2 linked regions of the Homo sapiens genome follow. The protein of the gene in region 2 purifies or fractionates together with the protein of the main gene of each other region. This does not show direct contact. Each region holds a gene or a part of one and is shown on either strand. Other genes may lie near its edges.

Region 1 (3,822 bases), on a different chromosome or scaffold from region 2:
TATTTGCGGCTGCCTCAGTCAATGTCAATGAGGAGGCAGCAATATGTCCCAGGGCTCTACTCTTGACCCTTTCTCATGTGACATTTTTATAAATGAATTGAATGAAAATATAAAGCACAGGTTGATAAAGTTTTCAGATAAAACAGCTGGGAGAGAGTAATATTAAATACACTGGGTGAAAGAATAAAAGTCCAAGAAGATCTCAAAAGGCACAGAAAATGAGCTGAATCAGAAGATATATATATATATATTTTTTGAGATGGGGTCTTGCTCTGTCACCCAAGCTGCAGTACAGTGGCAAGAACACAGTTCACTGCAGACTCGACCTCCCAGGCCCAAGCGATCCTCCCACCTCAGCATCCCAAGTAGCTGGGATCACAGGCATGCCCTATGGCTGGCTGATATAAAAATTTTTTTCTGTAGAAACAGAGTCTCCCTCTGTTGCCCAGGCTGGTCTGAACTCCTGGGTTCAAGTGATTCTCCTGCCTCAGCCTCCCAAAGTGCTGAGATTACAAGTGACCCACCACACACAGCCAAGGTTAAATTTAATGAAATGAATATGAATTCCTATATGTGGGTTTCAATCACCAAACTGTGAAAGTTCTTGTGGCCGGGCGCGGTGGCTCACGCCTGTAATCCCAGCACTTTGGGAGGCCAAGGTGGGCGGATCACGACGTCAGGAGATCAAGACCATCCTGGCTAACATGGTGAAACCCCGTCTCTACTAAAAATACAAAAAAAAAGAAAATTACCCAGGCATGGTGGCGGGCGCCTGTAGTCCCAGCTACTCGGGAGGCTGAGGCAGGAGAATGGCGTGAACCCGGGAGGCGGAGCTTGCAGTGAGCCAAGATCGAGCCACTGCACTCCAGCCTGGGCAACAGAGCAAGACTCCATCTCAAAAAAAAAAAAAAAAAAGAAAAAAAAAAGAAAAGAAAAAAGAAAGCTCTGTTTAGCATCTGTGAGCAGGACTTGGTGTCTTGTTGACCATCAGCAGTGTGCTATGGCCAGGATAAAAGCTACCTTTGCCTTTAGCTGGGGTACTGTGTGTGGTTCTTGGGGCCACCCTTGCTGGCAAAGGTATGGAGAATTGGCTTCACATTCACTGCTTGTGAGTGTTAAATTGTACTACTTTTCTGAAAGGGAATTTGAAAATACTTATTCTACGAATCTATCTTTGTGAAATGGTCATGAGTGAATGAAAAGATTTGGCCTGTTTTCACACCTTTGTTTAAAATGATCAAAATTAGGAACAATCTCAATATCAAAAAAAGTTACTGAATAGTAAATAAGTTGGCTTGTAAACTAATTGCTGGAAGCCTCCATACAATGGAGAAACTGAAATATTTAATACAATAGAAAAGGTGCAAGTTGCTTTGGTAGGTGAAACAGCAGTATGTTCCAAATCTCAGAGAAGGTAAAGAACTTAGCCAGAGATCTCTTCACCGAGAAGAGGCTGGGAAAGGCAGGCCTGGCACCCACCGAGGACACTTCCCAAGCCTGAGATGTGCCTTCGTCACTACTTTGGGGAACTGTCATAACTTCTCCATGTTTGGTGTTTTTGCTTCAGCCTGTCTCTCCAGAGCGGTTGGCAGCAAGCACCCTAAAACAAAAGGGTCTGTGTTCTTTTCTCTCTATGAAATGGAGTCCCTCCTGTGCCAGGGCCACGCCTAGATTTACTTTTTACAGCCCCAGCACCTAAGTGGGTGTTTAACACACAGGCGGTGCTATGGTTTGAATGTTTGTCCCCCTCAAAACTCATGTTGAAATTTAGTTACCAATTTTAACAGCAGGGTTCTGCCCTCTTGAATGGACTAATGTCCTTCTCAAGAATGGGTTTTTTTATAAAAGGGCGAATTTGGTCCCTTCTCACTCTCTCTTGCTCTTCTGCCATGTAACGGTGCAGCAACAAGGTGCCACCTTGGAAGCAGACTCTGGGCTCTCACCAGACAGACACTGAATCTGCTGGTGCCTTGATCTTGGATGTCCCAGCCTCCAGAACTTTGAGAAATACATTTCCATTGTTTATAAATAACCCAGTCTCACATATTCTGTGGTAGCAACAAACATGGATTAAGACAGTAGGTGTTCAATAGATATTGAATGACAATGTTGCCGTCTGAGTGGCCCCCCTCCCAGACCTGGTGTGCTCTGCCTCTGGGATACCCGAGTCCCCACAGTCCAGCCTCATGGTGGTTCAGTCACAAGGGCCTGACTTAGAATCACATGGGCAGTCTTCTCTCCAAGCTGGCCAGTGAACAGCAGTGCTGCCCTGTTCTAGCAGGTGGTCCACCTTGAGAAGAAAGCAACCTCCAAAGCAAGGAAGTAGCCAAAGAAGCAAAGCTGTGCTCCGGGACTGCCTCCCTCTAGGGTCCCCTCAGCAACCCTCTCTCCGGTGTGACTTACAGTTCAAGCCTGTCTGGGTTTTCAATGGGCCCTTTTGTCTCCCTCCCCAAACTCTCTCCGGTGTTTCCCACACACAGAAAGAGGGAGAGCCTGGAATTTTGTTTCCAAAGCACAGCAGCAGCTCAGAGAAGCCACAAGGCGACTTGAAGCTGTCAACAACGCTGTTCTGCAGCCCTTCAGGTGGCTTGGAGTCTGCTATTTTGAAGGCAAAACTCAACCGAAGTGAGGGTGGGGAAGGCAGGGGGAAGGCAGTGGGAGGGCTGGCGGAGTCGAGCCTCCAAAGGGCCCCGTGCTGCTCTGGGAAGAAGGGGTTCACCCTGGAGCCAGACTCGTGGACCATCTCTGCCAGGAGAAATTCTAAACTTTCCTCAGCTGCTTTCTGGTAATTTGTGGCTAGACTCGAGCATGTCAGCTGAACCAGAGTCAAAGTCACTGTGGTTTCCTGGGGTCACAACCGCTTCATGCTTGGCAGGGAGCAGAGAGTTGTTCTGGTTCTTTCAGCACGAATGACATCTGGGCTTCATTGAAGCTCTCACTGACTCAGGAATGAAGCTTTTATTCCCCTAGCCCCAAAGGTGGCCAGAAACCAAAGACATAATGAATGCAAGTCATTTGCTCACTCACCCGTCTCCCTGGCCACCTCAAACCCAATGTGAGGGCAGAGCTGTTAAAATCCACCCTCCCCAGCACCTCAAAGGAGACAAGTTTGGCTCTAGAAATCCTCCCACTGCTCCTCCTTCCTTTACCCTCTTCTCCCTCCTGGTTCCCCTTTCCCACAGCCCAGTCCCTTCCTTCCCTGGGCCTTAGTTTCCTCCGCTAGAACATGGAAATGATAGTATCTATCTCACAAGATGACAGAACGGAAATGAAGGTGCCGTAGACATTGTAAATCAGGGTAAGGCAAATTCCGGCCTGTTTCTGTATGGCCTATATCTCAGAATGGTTTTTCTTTTTTTTTTTTTTTTTTGAGATACTGGGCCTCACTCTGTCACCTAGGCATTGAGTCCAGTGGCACCATCAAGCTCACTGCAGGCTTGAACTCCTGAGCTCAAGGATCCTTTCTCCTCATCCTAGGAGCTGGGATGGCAGGCATGTGGCTGGCATGGCCACTACATTCTGCTAATTTCAAAAAAAAATTTTTTTTGTTGAAACAGGGTCTTGCTATGTTGCCCAGGCTGGTCTCAAACTCCTGGCCTCCAGTTGTCCTACTGCCTTGGCATCCCAAAGTGTTGGGATTACAGGTGCAAGCACTGCACCCGGCCCTACATTTTCAAACGGTTGAGAAAAAAGCAAAAGAAGAAAAATATTTCATGACCCATGGAAATTATATGACATTCAAATCTCAGAGTCTAATAAAGTCTTACTGAAACACAGCCACATCCATTCACTTACATATTATCTATGGCTGCTTTTGTTACA
Region 2 (3,822 bases):
TCCAGTCATGCCTTTGAGCCACCACGTTCCCACAGCTGGTGCCCAGCTGTCCTTTCTGTGCATACCTTGCGGTGGTGACACAAGGAATAGCCGTTCCCAGCACACCTGGGGAGTTCCTCACGTGAGCTGACCTTGGTTTCTAGAGTGGAGCAAGCTTTGAGGACCAGGATCTTTGGAAGGGGACATCTATTCTGTGTGTTACCACTAAGGCAAATGTCACTCATTGTCTTCTTCATCCCCCATTGTACTACTTCCTTCAATAAACCATCCAGAAGGAGCCACATTCATCAATGCTAATTGGTTCGTCCATTTTAAAATGAACTGTTTTAGGACTGCTCTGGTTGTATGAAGAAATTTTCCTTTCCTCCCTACTAACTAGTGGGAAATGCCAAACATTCTATATTAAATATTTTCTTTCTTTTATGTTTTAAGGGCAGAGGAGTTAACCATTTTTACTCTAAAAAGTCACTGCTCTAGCTTTCCTAGAAGTTGTGCAATTGATGTCATCCTTTCCTAGGGGATTTGGTATTGAGGACATATGTCTGCATGAACAAGACCATATCTGCTCTCCAAAGCAAAACGAAGCATGTCCAGTGTTCATGTGCCTTTCATTTTCCCTTTATATCCAACACATATGTTCATTTAGCACTAAATAGTCCTCCTGTTTCCTAGGGGAATTATTGAACCTTCCTGAATATATAATTTTTTAGTAGAAATGAATGAGGAGGATGAAAGAAGAGAATCAAGCCCAGTAGACTTCTGTGTGTTCTCTCTAGAGAATAGCCAAGTCAAAAAAAAAAAAAAAAGCTAAAATTCATTAAATAAAACAATTGCCCAGGAGCACAGGTGTAAGGAAAAGATGGCTCAAGAATCCAAACCATTTCTGGGAGTCTGAAGTTTACATATTTTGACTGCAAACTGGCCAAGGACATCCTGGTGCACTTGATGTTTTTCCCACATGAGAACCCTTGTAGCTGTCACGTTAACGGTTATATCAGGCAGTGAGGAGGCCAGGGTTGTGCTGATGTGCTGGGCCACTGTCTGCTCTGGAGCAGAAGGTTTGTCAACATGTGTTATTTAGGCTTTGCTTCTTTATGAAGACCAAGAAAAGGGGGGAGTGGAGACTAGGTAATGCATTCCACTCCATCTTTCAATGAGCATGTGGTACTGGAAGGGGAAAGTGGGAGCAGAGACTCAGATTCCCTGGGTCCCAGCCCGATGGGACCATCTCCTGCCACTCCCGGGCTGCAGTGAAGGCTGCCTGCTACCTAGGAAACAGCTTCACTATCCAGGTTGGGTTCTTCCATTGTATGTTTCTTTTCACTAAATCAAGATTGCTCTAAAATTGAGTCCCACCGACAAATTCAAGGGCAATTTGGGTTTATAACCGAGGCAAGGTGTTTCATGGAAAAATCCAAACAAAAGCCAGAGACCAAATTAAAACACACACACACACTCCACCATGATAAACATATGTGGTTAACTCAGATAAATAGCCAGTCAATTCAGTAAAACATTCAGAAAATGCCAAGTTGCCCCATTTGTGGAGATGTGGTCTGTCCGGAACATTGACCTTAATCTGAAAGACTCCCAACTCTTTTCCAAGCAGTAGAGTCCAGTATCAAACTATACTGGAACAGAGATTTTGTTGAAATGTGTAACCAAAGAAAAGTTTCTAAGGCATTGCATGGTTCATTAACTAAAGAGTGAAAAGAAAACTGTAGGAAGTATGAATAAATATATACACACAAAGAAATTCTTGATTCCAGTAATAAGCTAAATTCATTTTGAGGTGGCCATAGACATCTTTTGGTAGCAATGACAAAAACCACAGGGCAATTTAAAAATGAGTACTGAAACTAAAATTGTCTTCCATGGAATTACATGAGAACAAAGAAAATGTTTTCTTCTGAATGTGGATTTGGTCAAGCTACTAGAGATGATTGGGAATAATACCTCAATTCCTGAAGAAAGGATGCAGGACTTAAACAAAACTTTATATGTCCTCTGAATGGATCATCTACTCTGAGTTCTGAAATAAAGTTTAGTGAGAAATTCTAGTAGAAATGTCTAAATTAAGATACATGAACTCACTTTTCAATTAAAGAAAAATAAAAGTGGAAGACAAGTTTTCCAGTTCAAGAAGACGACTTATCCAAACTGCTAGGTTTGTGGTCATCCTAAATAAACTCAAATTAAAGATGGCAGACAGGTATGGATAAAGAAAGGTCTTTATTTTCCAGACATTAATGAGTGTTAAGAAATTTGGACTAGAAGCAGTGAGTCTGAGATGAGAATACAACCAGAACTACTATTTCTTCTTCCAGAATTCCATTCTTTAGACCATGAAAAGTTGGGTCGAGTGGAGGGAAAGCTGATTAAAGTGTTTGCTGTGAGACTATTTTAGAGCTGGTTTCTCCAAAAGCTCATCTGTATTCTCCCCAGGGGCTGGCGACCTACTACTGACGTCAGGAATGGCTGAGCAGAAAAGCCTTTCTCGTGCTAATTAACCAGTGGCTGGAATCAAGTCCAATGGGTCTTTAAATTGGAAGGACTCAAGGGAGGATCGTCTGTTAATATTTGGAACTCAGTTTAGGGATTTGAAATGTATTCTTGCCAGTCAGTCATGACTGACATATGACTATAAAAGCAGCCAAGTCTGCAGAAGGTAAAAATAAAATGTGTCTAGAATAAGAGCAATTCATTTTCAGTCTTGCTGAGAACAATTCTAAAGCTTCAATCAGGAAATTATATCTATAAAATAAAACTGGTTAGACAAGGGAGAACAGTCTGTTCTTGGTGTTATATTTTCCAATATATGAAAGAATTCTCTACAAAATAGTTATATGACTATCCGGCTAGTTACTTCTGTCTTGATTTGGACACACAGCCTTGAATGCTTTCTGGGGTCATTCTGAATGCAACAAACATTAAAGTCATCCCAATCAATCTAGGACCAGAGAAAATCTTATAGAGTAAAGTATATATATATATCATGAAATGAGGGGACACACCGAAGCATGCATCTTTCTCGCTGCATTTCTAATTTCATATACAATGAATATTTCATTCATTCCTAGTCCACATACGATGAGAACAGAAGACTTCATCTCAGGGAGCTACAGTTGTATGTTATATCCAAAGTACCAAAGTAAAATAGAACAGTAACGTCTCCAATGTTTGCGATTTTTCACTCTTCTTAAATTATACAATTTTGAGGGCAGGAATTATGTCTATTTTGTTCACCTCTCCATTCCCCTCCTAGTTCAGTGGCTGGCAATTAGTCGATACTAAATAGATACGTATTAAGAGATAGCTATTGTACAGATCCTCCAACTCTTATAATATGTTAATTCCATGTAGTGGGTTGAACAGTGTCTCCCAAAATTCATGTCTACCTGGAACCTCAAGGCTACTACATTTGGAAATAAGGTCTTTGCAGATGTAATTAGTCAAGGTGACACTGACACAAGCAGAGAAGAGAATGTCCTGTGAATATGGAGGCAGAGATAGGAGTGACACCAAGGAGCTGCAAGGATTGCCAGAGAGAGGCATGAAGAGACCCTTCCCCAGAACCTCTGGACATAAGCACCCTTGGATGCCTTGATTCTAGACTCCCAGCCTCCACACCCCTGAGAGCATAAATGTCTGTTGTTTCAAGCCGGTGAGTTTGTGGTACTTATTACAGCAGCCCTGGGAAGCGAATGCACTCAAGGAAAACAAGAGAAATGTAAATAGGTGGTTGCTGTTCATCATCAAACATTCCAACATGTCAGGGGACTTGTACATTGTGTGTGTGTGTGTGTGTGTGTGTGTATGTGT

What was found.
Region 1: the proteins of SLC22A3 (region 2) and ACTG2 purify together in Homo sapiens (affinity purification with mass spectrometry; one large-scale study listed by BioGRID and IntAct). This does not show direct contact.

Annotation. Positions count from the first base shown.
Region 1 is NC_000002.12:73,895,896-73,899,717, reverse strand, and holds part of ACTG2 (actin, gamma-enteric smooth muscle isoform 1 precursor), read right to left. Parts: intron 1-3,822. UniProt on the Homo sapiens protein: Actins are highly conserved proteins that are involved in various types of cell motility and are ubiquitously expressed in all eukaryotic cells.
Region 2 is NC_000006.12:160,438,592-160,442,413, reverse strand, and holds part of SLC22A3 (solute carrier family 22 member 3), read right to left. Parts: intron 1-3,822.